Linked DNA regions of Homo sapiens: region 2 is linked to region 1. The links come from fine-mapping of genetic effects on gene expression. A gene starts in region 1. The other region holds a variant in brackets. All regions are shown on one strand. Distances are between the middles of the regions.

Region 1 (8,416 bases):
ATAGGCAAAACAGGTCAGGCATGGTAACTCAAACGCCTGTAATCCCAGCACTTTGAGAGGCCAAAGCAGGTGGATCCCCAAGGTCAGGAGTTCGAGACCAGCCTGGCCAATGTGGTGAAACCATGTCTCTACTAAAAATACAAAAATTAGCTGGGCATGGTGGCGTGCGCCTGTAATCCTAGCTACTCGTGAGACTTAGGTGGGAGAACTGCTTGAACCCAGGAGGAGGAGGCTGCAGTGAGCTGAGATCGCACCACTGCACTCCAGCCTGGGCAACAGAGTGAGACTGCATCTCAAAAAAAAAAAAAAAAAAAAAAGGGCAAAACATTTTTATAGATGCTTCACAAAAGACGTTCAGATAACAAGTGGATGAATGACTGACTACTCTATTTCATTAAGCATCAGAGAAATATAACTTAAAATTACAATGAGACATCAGTACAGACCCAGAGCAATAGTTTAAAAAATTTAAACTACTAACTACTATAAACCCCAAGGGCTGATATGACTGTTGAATAACTGGAACTGCCATATGCAGCTGATGGGAATGCAAAATGGGACAGCCACTTTTGAAAAAGGTTTTAAAGTATTTTATGAAATTAAGGCTGAGCATGGTGCCTCACACCTATAATCCCAACATTTTGGGAGGCTGAGGTGGAAGGATTGCTTGAGGCAGGAGGTTAAGACCAGGAGGTTAAGTCCAGCCTGGACAACATAGCAAGACCTTTTTTCTACCAAACATTACAAATTAGCTAGGCCTGGTGACATGCTCCTGTAGTCCCAGCTACTTGAAAAGGCTGAGGCCCAGGAATTCGAGGTTATGGTGAGCCATATCCTACCTCAAAAACAAAACAAAACAAAACAAAACAAAAATAGAGAGGAAAAAAAAAAGCAAAGAGCAAGCAAGCAAGCAAGAAATTAAAATCTTTGGCCACACAAACACCTGTAGCCAAATGTTTATAGCAGCTTTATTACTAACAGCCAAAACCTGGAAACAACTCAAAGCCCATTAACTGCTGAATGGATAAACAAACTGGTAATACATATAATGGAATACTACTCACACATTAAAAGAAAAAATTAGTGATACATGCAAGAACATAGATGAATCTTGAAAGTATTATATCAAGTGAAAGAAGCCAGACACTACCAGCTCATACTATGTGATTCCACTAACATGATGCCTCCAAACACAAACCTATAGCAGTAGATATCAGATCAAGGGTTGCTAGGGACCAATGGTGAGGATAGAAAATCGATAATAAGTGCATGAGACTTTACAGACTTACAGATATACTAAAAATGATTGTGATAGTTCACAACTCTTCACATTTGTCCAAACTCATAGAACAGTATTCCTTAAAAGAGTCAACTTTACCATATGCAAATTATGACTAAATATGCCCGACTTTGTTTTTTCAAAAGTGAGGGTGAGGTGGGATGGGGTTGGGGGAGACATTATATACAGGAGAACAAAGATAAGAATGACACCAAATATCTAAAAACAACAGCCAGAGGACAATAGAATATTAAAGTGCTAAAAAAAGTCAACCTACAATTATATATCCAGTTTAAAAATAAATCTTTCAAAAATGAAAGTTAAATAAAAACATTTTCTAAGAAACAAACACTGACAGAATCCTTCACCTACATGCAGTATTAAATAAATGAAGTTATTCAAACTGAAGGAAAATTATGAAAATATGGATCTACATAGATGGATGTATTCTATCAAACACTTAACAATGCAATGCCAATCTTATACAAACTTTTTCAAGAAGTAAAGAATACAACACATCCCAGATCACTTAAAGATGTCAGACACCATTACCCTAATTCTAAAACCAGACAATCAAAATAAAGCAAAACTGAAGACCAATCTCCCCAAAATGGCAACCGAACAGTGAAAAAAAATTTAGTTAAAGCCATTCCTCACATCATATATAAAAGCAAATTTCAGGTAAGCTAATGTTCTCATGTGAAAGATAATGCCTGAGATGGTTAGGAAGAAGATTATGAGATTATATTCAGGTATATGCTGGTAGAATTCACCATAAAATTATTTTAATATAAAACATCCAAAAAATTAAGGCACACAAACTATTTTCACTCTTCATGTTGATCAAGAATTTTCCTATTTCTTGTTAATTCAAAAAGACTCTGGATGCAATACCTTGTGAACTTATTTTTTGGTATGCCCCTGTGCTCATATACTACCTTACTACCTTTATCTCTCTGTTTTTTGTTTGTTTGTTTTGGAGATAGGCACGATCATTGGCCACTGCAGCCTGGAATTCCCCGGCCCAAGTGATCCTCCCACCTCAGCCTCCTGAGTAGCTGGGAGCAAGGCGAACACCACCACGGCTGGCTAATTTTAAAATTTTTTTGTAGAGATGGGGTCCGACTATCGTCTTGAACTCCTGGGTTGGTCTCGAACTCCTGGGCTGAAGCAGTCTTTCCACCTCAGCCTCCCAAAGTGTTGGTTGGGATTACAGGCGTGGACCGCCACACTTAGAAATGACTTTTCTAATATCCTTAAATCAGAGCTCATGTAAAATTTTCAGCCTTCTCATTCCACCTCCCTCCGAACTACAAGTCTTAAAACTAAGAAATGACAGCCATTCGGTAGAAGTTAAAACACTGTTTCGCTGCTTATTTCTACTTAAAAAAATTATATACATAGATATATATTATGTAAATATATATAATTATATATATAGACATACGTGTGTGTATATATATAAATAAACGTGTAGAATTGGACTGGGGTCCCACTAATATCCACATTTCAAAACAGAATCTAAAACTCCCTAAAACAGGGTTGGGCTCGGCGGCTCACGCTTGTAATCCCAACCCTTTGGGAGGCTGACACTGGAGATCAGTCTGAGCAACAAAGTCAGATCTCTTTTCTACTAAAACAAAATACAACTCTCTAAAACTAATACAAAATTTTGTGTGTATGTGTCATATTCTGGAGAAAAGCTCCAAGGTTTTCCTCTGGGTCTTAAACAGGACTAAGACCCCCCACCCCCAAAAGAATCTCTGTTCTAGAGGCTAAGCATATAGAAGCTCATACTGCATTATCAAACTGGAAAGTTAATAGAGGATTTTCATGGTCATATACAGGAGAGGTGGGGAAAGCTGTCTATTTAGACTGTAAACTCCTAAAATGTTCATAAATCTCAATGGAAATTAAATCCACCGGGGTGGGAGAAGTATCACAATAGACAAAGAAGCTAAAGGTTAATGAAGAGAAGGTTTTAATCAGTGGTTACTTTTGTGCTTGGGATCAATCCTCAGTTTGTCCTCCAACGTAACTTTTGGCATTATTCATTTCAAAGTCTGAACAGTATCCATAAACCCAATACGAAACCTATGGATCCAGAGGGTCCGACCGAAAACAAAACAATTATGTTTCCGATGTGAACGCATCAATAGCTTACTTTTGTAGCGCTTTATAAAACGCTGTCACTTGCTGCTTTCCACGTCATGATATTCCCGGTCGGGAAGAGTAGGACAGCAGCATCTTTTATGAATAAGGAATTTTTTGGATTCAATTTGTGAGGTGTGGGACGCTCACCAGGTTGCGCGAAAACCATTTTTCTACATCGTCAAGTGCACGCACCCCGTGTCTCATAGTATTAGTGATGAAGACGAGGATGAAACTACCAAAGACATCAGTGGGGAGTGAATTATACTTGGGGGAGGTGTAAGCACGTCGAAATAAGGAAGCTGAGAGACATTTTGTGAAAGAGGGAAGGTAGCGTTAAGAGGAGCCTTCCATCAGGGGCAACAGAACGGGGGCAGGCGTGGCGTCTCTGGGACTGCCGGAAAACGACGTGAGGGAAAAACTCAGAGGCTACGAAAAGGCGAACAGACGGAGGGCCTGCCTCAGGGGAGCTAAGCAGCTCGCCTGAAGCCCCCCATCTGGAAATGACGTGTTTAACTCGGCGCCCCTGCAGCTCCGGCCGCCCTTTTTTGTTTAACTCCGCGCCCCTCCAGCTCCGGCCGCCCTTTTCGTCGCTCTCCCCTCGCGGTCGCTCACCCCTGAGATCCCTGGTTCCACTGAGACGCTCAGCTTCATTCGGCAACTCGCGGACACCAAGCGCCACAAATTCAAATACGAGATCTAGAGACGCTGGGTCTCAAACGTCTCCCAGAGTGAAAGACAGAGGAACCAATCGAGGCTCGGCTGACCTCAGACGTCTAAGGCGATAGGCGTTGCTAAGAAAAGGGGGTGGGACGATACCCAGTTGCCAAGACGACGGCTTCCGGGTGGGCGGCTTGAGGTGGCTTCCGGCCGCCAGGCGAGACTCCGCGGGAAAACTCCCTGCTAGAGAGACTAGGAGATTTGGGGCTGCGGCCGTTTCCTCCGGAGCACCCACGGGACTGTGTGCTGGGGTCCCTCCACCGGCTGTGTCCTTTATTCTTCTTTCTCACCCAACGATTTACCTGAACGGTTATAAAGTGCACGTTATTTCCCTAAGGTAAGCGTGTGGTAGCGCCTCCTCCTCCTCCAACAGGGGGGTAACAGAAACCTGCTGTCAACTTTGTTACCCAACATAACTGTACTTAACCACAAAAAGTTGAAATTTTGGATCTTTAAACATTCAATAACCTCTTGCTGTGTGAGGTTTTTTAACTGCACTACATACATTTTGTAGTCTTTAACCATTGAATGCGATTTAAGTTTACAATGAAATTTAACGTTCTGGTTGTTTCTGACCCCAAATTTCATCTGAACCAGTTAATGGACGAAGAACTGAAATTTTATTTTCTGTGACAGTCTCATAGGTTCTCAGACTTAAGTTCTTAATCGCCCATAAATCTGAAGGCAGGTGTTAAAGATGAGCAGGTGATTTGAGCCCAGTCCATGCCAACACTCAAACTAATTCAGCTGAGACTCCTTTCGTTAGGAGCATTATTTTAATTTTAAAAATTTTAAACCGAATGGTAAGCATGGCTGCTTTAGTTTCAGTTGTGTCTCATTTGATGATGATAGTCCCACACAAGACGATCTCATTTGTCAATGAAAGTAAACATTAGTGACCACACAGCTTTCTGCAGATAACTCTTTAAACGAACATCTTTTATCAGACCACAGAAATCATTGTTATTGTCACTAAAATGTAAAAACTAAAGCAAAACTTATCTGCTTATCAACAATTTCTTCCTCCATAGCTAAGGTAGGGAAGCATTTATGAAAGCTTAGATCTATATGTGTTTGGGATCCTGCCAACCCCTTTCTTAAAATTCCATCTTCAAAACTCCCTGCTAATGAGCACTTTTCCAACAGCTTGGATGAAACATTCTGAATAATTCGTCAGCCTGAAGGTTAGAAATTTCATTAAATAAAAAATTAAATACACAGAATACTTAAGTATGAAACATTAATGAACTGAGTAATACATTCTTAAGAAGAGGAGGCACTTAGGAAAACACAGGCCACCTGCATTGTGGAGCCATTTAATGTGATGAGATTTGATAAATGGGTAAGAGATCAAAAAATGCCCAGGGTTTCAAAAGAGAATGTTCCATGAGCAGCTTACTGCCTACATAGACCATTTGAAAATCAAACCAACTCAGCAGAAGCCCAAGAGGCCTTCAGATGAACCCGAGTATCCTTTGGATGTCAGTGTTGTACTGAACAAAGTCAGTTGAACTGTTATTTATCTGACAAGAAAAAAAAATGCCTAAATTTTGTAAGGACTTACACCATTCATTTAAAAATATATAGTGATCTTAGAGGTTAGAAAGCACAGAAAAGAAACTTGAACATAGAGGTACTTAAAAGGAGAAAAATAAATTTCCTCCGGTAGTAGACATGTATTTGGCATTGTTCACTGTTATCTCCTTGATGTCCTCTCTCCTCAGCTTGGCTGAATCCTACTTACGCTTTTAAGACCCAGGTCAAATTGTGAATCTTTTGTGACCTAGTCCATAGTCACCTCTCTCCCTCCTGAATGCCTATAATAGTCTTTATTTGGCATTTTTTTGTATTCTTTATAATGTTTCTTATTTATGTTTATGAATATATCTTACATATAACTTGCATCATCTAAACCCTAAACTACTCAGAATTGTGTTCACCATGTACCTGGCAGACAGACTTGAACAAATAAGTTTTGATGTAAAACTGCCAAGATTAATACTAAATATAGTTGAGATCCATATTAGTTTGCTAGAGCAAACATAACAAAATGCCACAGACTAGGTGGCTTAAACAACAGAAAGTTATTTTCTCACAATTCTGGAGGCTAGAAGTTCAAGATCAAGGTATCAGCAGGGTTGGTTTCTTTCTGAGGTCTCTGTCCTTGACTCAGATCACTGTCTCATCTCTTTGTCTTCATGTGCTGTTTTCTCCATGTGTGTGCACACCTGTGTCCAAATTTTCTTTCCTTGTAAGCACACCAACCCTACTGGATTTAGGCCCGTGTTAAAGACCTCATTTTAGCTTAATTACCTCTTCAAACACCTTATCTCCAAATAGGGTTACTTTCTGAAGTACTAGGGGTTACACCTTTAACATATAACTTTTGGGGAGACTCAAGGCCATAACAGTAGCCAAGACTCAAAAAGCAGAAATGATTGGGAGCAATTATCTGTCACCTTTCAGAACTCCCATTTTTAGACCTATAGATAGCATAAATGTGTAAGTCAGATTAGTGTAAGATAATAGGAAGTGGTAGGGCCTGTGGCAATTCAAAGTATATTTGCCCAGACAGAAGACATTCAAATTAAAATTGTAAACAACCCTCCATCCCCACCCGAGCCATCCAAACAAAACAGTTTGGCTGGTTTTGACTTACAGGTTATCAGTTTGCAAAAACCACCACCATGTTACTTCGTTTGGAATCATAACCTGATGGTGGATATTGGACATATTAAGTATTTTTATTGCATATCCAAATACATTTTTCCCAGACCCCATTGGTTTATGCACAGCTTTTTTTATTGAGTACTTGTTGTGTTAAAGGAACTGTACTAAGTGCCATGCAGGGATTAAGATCCATACGTTTGGCTACATATATCCTAGAGTTACAAGGACCTATTTTTGAGATCATTTATTAAATACCTAACTTTACAAAATTTAATTTTTTGTGTAACTTTATCGTGTAAATAAATTTGAACTCCAAAAAAAATTTCTTGTCAGACTACATGCACCACAAAGACCAAGACTGTGGCCTCAAGTACAAGGGTAGAGGAAATGAGACAAATAAAAAAATAATTATTGAGCAAGATGAAAGAAGACCATAAGAGGATTATAGATAAAGTGCTATGGAAGATTACAGGACAAACAGATTTCATCCAGCTGGGTGTGGTGCTGAAGGTATTTAATGCAGTTCGAATTAATCTTTTCATGGCACTTGGTACCTCTAATATATCATTAATCGGCATATTATATGGTAGCTATTTGCTTATGTTCATATCCCTCCCAGTACGTTCTGAAATACACAAGAATGTCATAATCTTTATTTGTTCCAGTCTAATGTTATTCAAAAGCATCTAGTGTTACCCAAAGGAGTCAATTGGGGAACTTTTTAAAAAGAAACTTGTCTTAATTCTAGCTCTGAAGATTGTAATTAAGTAGGCCTGGAGAGGTGGTGGAGGATCTCTATTTTGAAAAGTTTTCCCTCACTTAATAAATCTGGTGATCACACCATTTAGAATCTACTGCCCTAGAGCACCTAGTATATAGTATGCTCTCAGTAAATTGTTGTCACATTAAATGAGCAGAGCTGCAATTTAGTAAGATTAATAAGACTCCAGTGTGTAGGATGAATTAAAGTGGGAAATATCCTAAAGGCAGGAAAATCCTATTACAGATGTCCAGCTAAGAGATGAAGCAGCCCTGAACTAGGGTAGAGACAATAGGAGATAAATGGATGAGAAACACTGAGAAGGTAGAATGAGCAGACTTAGGTGAAAATTGATATAATGCAGTAGTTCTCAAAATGTAGTATGCCTAAGTCTTACATGGGTTGTTGATTTAAAAAGATTTCTGGGATCTATCCTTGAAAACCTTTTCAGCTAATTCAGGGTAAAGCACATGAATCTAGCATTTTTAACAACCCTTCTTCATGATTTTGATTTAGATTATTTAAATTAAAAACCTCGATTTAAGAACACACTGATCTATTAACCATAGTGAGTAGGGAAGAGGGACTATTGAAAAAGAATTCTAAAGATTAAATCTTGAGCGACAGGGAATATGATAAGCCATTAATTCGGCAAGTAAGAAATGTCATTTAAGAGCCTGGAAAAGAGGTATGAGTGAAGAAAAAATTGGAAAATCTTTGTTTAATAAAGATTTCTAAGAGATCAAAGAAAAAGAAAATGGTTATACAGAGAATTGAGGGAGTATTTCTCCTTTTAGAGACCTTGAAAGAGGCAGCATATGAAACAAAGTGGAAAG
Region 2 (8,416 bases), 260 kb before region 1:
ATACGTGAATTTTGAATAAAATATTAAGATAGTTTATTCACCACTGAACTTGACTTCCTTATAATAAACTTTGGCAGAATTGAAACAGCATAGATGCTTTGGTTTGCTTATTACTGCTCTGAATTATGGGAGACTGCTCCATGACAAACTACAGAAAGTCTTCTACTATCAGCAAGGATTGTTAAGAGTTCAGAAATTCTCATCTTTAAAATAAGGCTGGCCAGGCATGGTGGCTCATGCCTGTAATCCTAGCACTTTGGGAGGCTGAGGTGGGCGGATCACTTGAGGTCAGGAGTTCGAGACCAGCCTGGCCAACATGGTGAAACTCCATCTCTACTAAAAATACAGAAAATTAGCCAGGTGTGGTGGCGGGTGCCTGTAGTCCCAGCTACCCAGAAGGCTGAGGCACGAGAATTGCTTGAACCCAGTGGGAGGAGGTTGCAGTGAGCCGAGATTCATTCCAGCTTGGGTGACAGAGTGAGACTCTGTCTCAAAAAAAAAAAAAAAAAAAAAGGAAATACAAAATAAGGCCTATGTGGAAAGAATTTTTCCCCAATCACAATGTGAAATTTGAGAGACTCAATCTTTTCGGAAATGTCTTCCTTGTCCAGATTCAGTGGTTTCTCCACATTGTTTCCATTTTCTAGAAATTTAGGCAATTAGTCCTTCTTTCCCTTCCTCATCAGTACAAGGAGCATAAAAACAATCATTTCAGTAAGTTGTTGTAGAAGTCAAGATACTGTCTGGAAAAGCCCTGTATAATCCTGTAATGTAATTCGGTGTAAACCAGCACAGTTATTTCTCTTCTCTCTTGCTTTGGCTTGAGTAAAACACTGTCTTCAGGTTCTTAATAGCTTACTGGAGGTCCCCTTTGGTAGATTTTGAGGTGAATTTATAACATTGTCTATTATATGGATTGTATGGATTTATGACAATTTAGAGATTCAACAATTCCTTCCAACTCTCTCTGATGTGTCCATCTTTAGTTCATTTCCTACAACTGGGCACTTTCAAGGCTAAATTCCAAGTTTCTTACTCCTTTGATACCCCTTCTGGAGGATCTAAATAAGTTTTATGGCTTCAGATGTTATCAAGTTTGGGCTACCATACTGCCATCTACGATTATACTTCTCTCCACCATTGTCCATGGAACATTTCAGTTTGAATGCCATACAACTCCTGAAACATCATATTTAAAAACAAGTCCATCTCCCCGAAGAGTCATCTTCACTAATTTCCCCATCACTATCAACAACATCTTGAGTGTTTCCAGGCTGAAAGCTGTGGTATCATTTTTTCCCTACTGCTATTTTAACTTACAATTAAAAATTCTGCTAATCACTTCTTTGTAACAACTTTGGTCTCCCCATACTCCTACTCCCAGCTTCCAATTCCTCTACTTCCCAGATCTCTGGTGTATTAGTCTGTTTTAACGCGGTTGATAAAGACATACCCGAGACTGGGCATTTTATAAAGAAAAAGAGGTTTAATGGACTCACAGTTCCACGTGGCTGGGGAGGCCTCACAATCATGGTGGAAGGCGAAAGGCAAAAGGCAAAAGGCAAAAGGCACATCTTACATAGCGGCAGGCAAGAGAATGAGCAAAGTGAAAGGGGAAACCCCTTATAAAATCATCAGATCTCGTGAGACTTATTCACTACCACGAGAACAGTATGGGAGAAATCCTCCCCATGATTCAGTTATCTCCCACCCGGTCCATCCCACAACACGTGGGAATTACGGGAGCTAAAATTCAAGATGAGATTTGGGTGGGGATACAGCCAACTGTATCATTTGGCCTTAACTATCTCATGTGTAGATGATTGCAGAAGGAAGCGCTAGAAAATTCTCATCATCTGACTTTTCGTACACCAACTAAACTTTGAGATTATTTGTACAATATTATTCTTCAGTTCAAGTATCCCATTGGCTACGTATTAATCAGTAAGTTTATTACTCAAGGTACTTCATTGTTAGAACTACTGTTTTATTAACTACGAGTTTATTTCCATAAAAGATATTCCACTTCAGCTGCTCACTATGTTTGCTATTCTCAGGTTTGACTTTTCTTGCCTTCTAAGCTTTTAGGCCATATGGTATAACATTGCCTAAAGAACATCTTCATTACTGTGATGAGTGGCAGATCATTAAAAAAGGGTGTGTGTGTGGCTAGGGGTCAGTGGGGAGACTTCTGCTGCTGATCATTTGTTCTACAATTAAATAAATAAAATTCAACTTGATTTTTTTTTGGCTTGGTAGCCTAGAATTTATATCACTTCCCTCTTTCATCCATAAAGATACATAGGCTTCATCCTCTTCAAAATCCAGCTGAGAAGTTAACTTCAGGAATCTTTCCTGGACTGATTGTTCATGGATAAAATTTGTCTCTACTTAGTATCTGTGCTCTTTATTCAGAATTTTTAAGTGCACAGTTGTTGATATGGTATCATTTTCAAGTACTTTGCAGTCCATATATAATGTTTGTTATATGTGTATACACACATCTGTTATCATAAGCCTAAGATACATAATAATGTCATATTCCTTTTAATTTTCAAATTAAATGTCTCTATGCTTTATTTTCTCCCCAGGATGTTTGCTTTGCTGACAACTTCAAGACCTCTAAGGATGCTTATTCAGACTTACAGGTCAGTTCTGGTAAGCATCCTCTGACTAGTCAACCAAGCAGTTGAATTCTTTACAGCTGTTACTAATGTCACTGGCACAAGATATCCTTATTGAAACAAGGAGAACCCAGCAGCCCCAGCATGTTCTTTGTTGTCACTATTTAAATACTCTGATGCCATAATTCTTGGTCATTGCTGGATAAGCAACAATAAATTGGGCATGGCTTTTTTCTGAAAACCTGCCCAGTGCAAGCCTGCTTAGGGCTGAGCCTGTGAGTACCTCTCAATGCATGGGAGGAGCCCAGCTGTACTTACCTACATTTCTTGTGACTTTGGCTCACAGCCAGGTCTTCACGTACCAATGTATGAGGCTCACATCTTTGAATCTGGGCATGCATATACAAATATTTTCTTTAAGGGTACCCATAGTACCAGGGTGAATAAGTTTGAAGGACTTTCTAGACTTAGTCTCTGTCCTTTATAAAACCATCAGATCTTGTGAGACTTATTAACTATCACGATAACAGCACAGGAAAAGCCTGCCCCCATGATTCAGTTACCTCCCACTAGGCCCCTCCCACGACATGTGGGAATTATGGGAGCTACAATTCAAGATGAGATTTGGGTGGGGACAAAGCCAAACCATATCACCATGCCAGCTTCTTTCCCCAGTGTGGCTCCAAGAATGCTGACAACCAAACTCATAATTTCAAGACAGGAACTTAGAAAAATCCTCTCTGAAATAGCACCATCATAAAATAAGAGACTTCGTAATACTGACATTTGGAGATCCCTAATAAAATGACT[A/C]GTCATTCTGTCTAACATTGATTTCAACAGATAACAATCCACATTTATGCACAAGAAGATTTCAATTGTCTTTTTAGAACCTCACCCTCAAATATGAATGGAAAGTCAAGGACCAGATATCTAAACAAAGTTCCTCTCTCCATACACTAAAAAGCTGAATAAGGAAAAAAAAAAATTGACGAAAAGAGAACAGGAAGCAGAAAATAATCTCATAAGACCCATAATCAATATTGTTAAATAAGAAAATATTTTGATTGCATTCATGAGACAAGAACGAGAGGGCATAAAAAAGGAACATTCTATGTGCAAAAGTATTATCCAAATTTTAAAATTATGATGCCGTTACACTTTTGGCAATGGTAGATTGACTTGTATTATGTTAACCTTCCAATAGACAGCAATACATTCTGGGGAAAAATATAAAAACAACTATTTGAAGGCACTGGGACAACTTAAAGCAGGTAGAAACTGAAAGGGGAACTGCATTGATTCTGCATCTGGCTTTTCACTTAAAGGCTCTTTCCAGTCAGTCTACACCACATGAAACGGCTGGAACGCAAGCAGAAAGCTATAGTCTTACCTGATTTGAGGATTCAAAGGAAAAAATTTTGGGCTGATGGAATTGCTAGAAAATCATGGGAAGACCTCAGACAGGAGAAAGCTGAGGGCCTGGAGGTATAAAATCTTCATATAAACCCCCTCAAATCCTTGGCTGGTCTTGATTAATGCATGTGCAGAGGACCTGGCAAAAAACAACAGCTGGAAGGCTAAAAAAAATGAGTGAAGAGTTTAGCTCAGGGAGGAGTTTCATTTTTGAGCTCAGTCCCTTGAATTGCTTGCTAGAACAAAATCAGCAGTATTTAAAGATAGCCATAGCCTCCACAATAGCACAATTAAAAACTACTAAACACATGAAGAAACAGTGGATGGAAAAAAAGTAAGTTGGAGAAAGCCAAAGAAAGGAAGCCGTGAACTTGAAAATACATCAATAGAAAATATTCAATCTGAAGATGAGACAGAAACAATATTGAAAAAAACCTACAAAGACTCACTATTCTGTGGGACTATATTTAAGTGGTTTTAAGTTATATTTAAATGTATTCTCAGAGCTGTGAAAATGCAGTATAATAAAAGATTTGAGGAAATAATGACCAAATTTTTCCTAAATTATGAAAGACATAAATTTATAGATACAAGATCTGAACTCCAATTAAGATAAATACAAAGAAACCACACTTAGGCACATTTTCACCGAACAGTTGAAAACATAAATAAAGAGAAAAGCAGCCAGAGGAAAAACAGCTCCATTATAAACAGGGGAACAATTATACAAATTATTACTGATTTCTCATCAGAAACAATGGAGGTGAGGAAATAATGGAACATCTTAAAGTGCTGAGGGAAGCAGGAACTGCCAATCTTACAATCTCTACCTAGGAAAACAATCATCTTAAAAAATGAAAGCAAAATAAATAAATTTTCAGAAAAAATTGAGAGAGCCTGTTATCAGCAGAATGGTTCTAAAAGAAATATAAATTCTTCAGGGTGAGAAAAATCAGATGAAAATTTATAGAGAAAGAATGAAGAAATATGAAATGGTAAATACTTGGGTAACTATAAAGGACTATACTTTTTCTTATCTTTAAAAGAAAATGACTAATGAAATATAATAACACCTTCTCGGTTAATGTATATATTACCTATAAGATAATATCACAAAGGATGAGATGGTAAATAGAAACAGACTGTTACATGGCTCTAATTTTTTTTTTTTTTTTTTTTGAGACAGAGTCTCATTCTGTCGGCCAGGCTGGAGTGCAGTGGCACAATCTTGGCTCACTGCAACCTCCACCTCCCAGGCTCAAGCAATTCTCCTGCCTCATTCTCCTGAGTAGCTGGGATTACAGGTGTGTGCCACCACACCTGGCTAATTTTTGTATTTTTAGTAGAGATGGGGTTTCACCATGTTGGCCAGGCTGGTCTTGAACTCCTGACCTCAAGTAATCGACCCGCCTTAGCCTCCCAAAGTGCTGGGATCACAGGTGTGAGCCACTGCACCTGGTCACATGGCTCTAATTTTTAAAAAATGCCTTCATTGAAATACAATTCATAATACAACCTACCCATTCCAAGTATACAATGTAATGGCTTTAATTATATTCATAGTAGGGTAAGAATGGAAATGGCAGCCGGGTGCAGTAGCTCATGCCTGTAATCCCAGCACCTTGGGAGGCCAAGTTGGGTGGATCACTGGAGGTCGGGAGTTCGAGACCAGCCTGGCCAACATGGTGAAACCCTGTCTCTACTAAAAATACAAAATAGTCAGGTGTGGTGGCACGCATCTGTAATCCCAGCTACTCGGGAGGCTGAGGCAGGAGAATCACTTGAACCCAGGAGGCGGAGGTTGCAGTGAGCCGAGCTTGTGCCACTGCACTCTAGCCTGGGTGAAAGAGCGAAACTCTGTCTCAAAAAACGAAAAAAAAAAAAAAAAAAAAAAAAAAAAAAAAAGAATGGGAATGGCTAATATTGAATTTAAAATTGTTTTCAATGCCATGATGTAAACACATGCTCCAATTCACATCCACAAATCTTCCCCAGAATTGACCTGGGAAACACAGATTAGTCATTGCATATAAGTTGTGGTTACTAAGTTAAGTCTACTTCAATCAAGTCTTTTAATAATCTAGATTCAAGAATTCAGGAATTTGGAATTATAAAAATGTTAACATAAAAATAGGGCAAAGGATAGAATAATTAAAGTTTCTGTAATAAGAACCTATATGGGAAAATTAATATGTATAAAAATTTCCCAATAAAAATAAAATTTTTGTAATGACAATATAGTTTGAGGCTGATCAACAACTTGAATAACCACTACTTGTTGATAGGATCACAAGTGAGGACTGGATAGATGTAGATTATATTTCTATAGAAGTCGTTACCCTACCAAATTGCAACTTGGCATTAAACAAGAAAAGTTACAGCTTTTCATTAAAGGTACTCAAATAAATTCATTGTTTATCAAATAAATTTCTACTTAGAGGAAGACAATGCTGCATAGTAAATTGTTTCTCAAACGTAAGAACTATACAGACCCTTTAAAATGAAATTCTGCATAATCTTAATGTTATATTACTTAAATACATGGAAACATAAAATCATAAAGTTAGGTTTAATGCATTTTCTTAAGCTCTTATAACTATAAAACTAAAATAAATTTTAAAAAATTGTAAAATCAGTATTTAAATAAAAATAGTATGATAAATTATTTTGTTTTACTAAAATTGCTAATGTTAGGTTTAATGTAAGGTGGTATTTCTTCAGGCATGTGTCTATAGTTAAATTTATTATTTGGTGTTCTATATTTCTAAATTTAATATTTTTAAATTTTCATGTTACTACTGTGGACACTGCCTCTTTACAGAAGTATGTTTTATAAAATGGCACTAATGTTCATTGAGTTGTACACTCAAGATTTCTGTACTTTAATAAGTTAAACCTTTATTTAAAAAATAGTTTTCACAATGTAAAGGCTTTGTTTGATAGTACAGTATGATCAGACTTAACAAAGTCCTGCTCAGAAACAATCTTTGAATGCCTATTTTAATAAGGTGTCTGTATTAGTCCATTTTCACGCTGCTGATAAAGACATGCCCGAGACTGAGCAACTTACAAAAGAAAGAGGTTTAATTGGACTTAAACAGTTCCAAGTGGCTGGGGGAGCCTCACAATCATACTGGAAGGCAAGGTGGAGCAAGTCACATCTTATGTGGATGATGACAGGCAAAAAATGAGAGAATGAGGAAGACGCAAAAGTGGAAACCCCTGATAAAACCATCAGATCTTGTTCACTACCAAGAGAACAGTATGGGGGAAACCGCCCCCCATGATTCAATTATCTCCCACTGGGTCCCTCCCACAACATGTGGGAATTCAAGATGAGATTTGAGTGGGGACACAGCCAAACTGTATCAGTGTCATTGTTAACATTATAGAACTTTTATTTAAAGGTAAGTTTAAATATTCCTATTATTTCAATTTGCATTAAATAATCTGATGGGATTTGGAACAGGGTATTTGGCACCACAGAATTGTTTCAAATAGGCACATACAAAAATATGGTCTCCGCAATACAATGACTATTTCAAATTCAAGATGGTAACAAAGACAGCAGTGTTCATTTGGGTTCATGTTGCCTTTACTACCACATGCTATGTTACAGATCAATCCTCTTTAAACCACTATGGGACCTTCAGTTTTACATTGTACGATGACATTTTTTGCATTCTCTTATCTAGCCAAACACAACCAAATAATTGTGTTTCTAGAGAAAATACCAAATAATTGTTCTGGAATGCAGGGCCATCAACACTGCTCGCTGCAGCCTTGACCTCCTGGGGCTCAAACAATCCTTCTAGGTCAGCCTCCTGAGTAGTTGGGACTATAGGCCCGTGCCACTATGCTCAGCTAATTTTTCATAGAGACAGAGTCTCACTTTGTTGCCCAGGTTGGAGTATTTTGTTATAAGAGGTTACTAAGATTATTTGCATTATCATTGTTAAATATAATTAAAAAGATAAAAGCACAATTTTAAACTGTTGAATTTTTTTTTATAGCACTTGTCACCTTCTAACATATTATATATTTTACTTCTTTATTTGTTTATTGTCTATCTCCTCTATTCCCACAAGAATGTAAGCTCATTTAAGCTCAGGGCAGCAACATTTTTCTTTTTTCATAATGTATCTCAAGTGCCCAGAACAGTGTCCAACACATAATAAGCACTCAGTCAATATTTGTTGAAAGAATAAAAAACTTTGTTATAAGATGACATCTGGGGACATCCCAGCCTTTCAGGATTCCTAGATTGAGAAATGCTGGAATGAAGGAAAAAGCTTTGGCTTAGAGGCTTATGTCTTAGCTTTCTAGTTTTACTCAGCTGCTTACTACCTACATAACATGGGGCAAGTTATTATACTTAA

The links. PIP is the estimated chance that this variant, and not a neighbour inherited with it, causes the effect.
Region 2: its variant is fine-mapped to the expression of ZFHX3-AS1 in whole blood (TOPMed, PIP above 0.99).

The regions. Positions count from the first base shown.
Region 1 is chr16:72,660,847-72,669,262 of GRCh38, forward strand. ZFHX3-AS1 (ZFHX3 antisense RNA 1) reads left to right here and starts at 4,287. Exons shown (of 4, transcript NR_171704.1): 1 at 4,287-4,487. It overlaps LINC01572 (long intergenic non-protein coding RNA 1572), which reads right to left and starts at 4,124. Exons shown (of 14, transcript NR_126330.2): 1 at 4,046-4,124. RefSeq lists enhancers at 3,866-3,985, 4,026-4,085.
Region 2 is chr16:72,401,808-72,410,223 of GRCh38, forward strand. All of the region lies in intron 7 of LINC01572 (long intergenic non-protein coding RNA 1572), which reads right to left. Among named protein-coding and RNA genes, the nearest start is that of PMFBP1, 230 kb to the left of the region's middle. The variant A/C (reference allele first, on the strand shown) is at 3,435.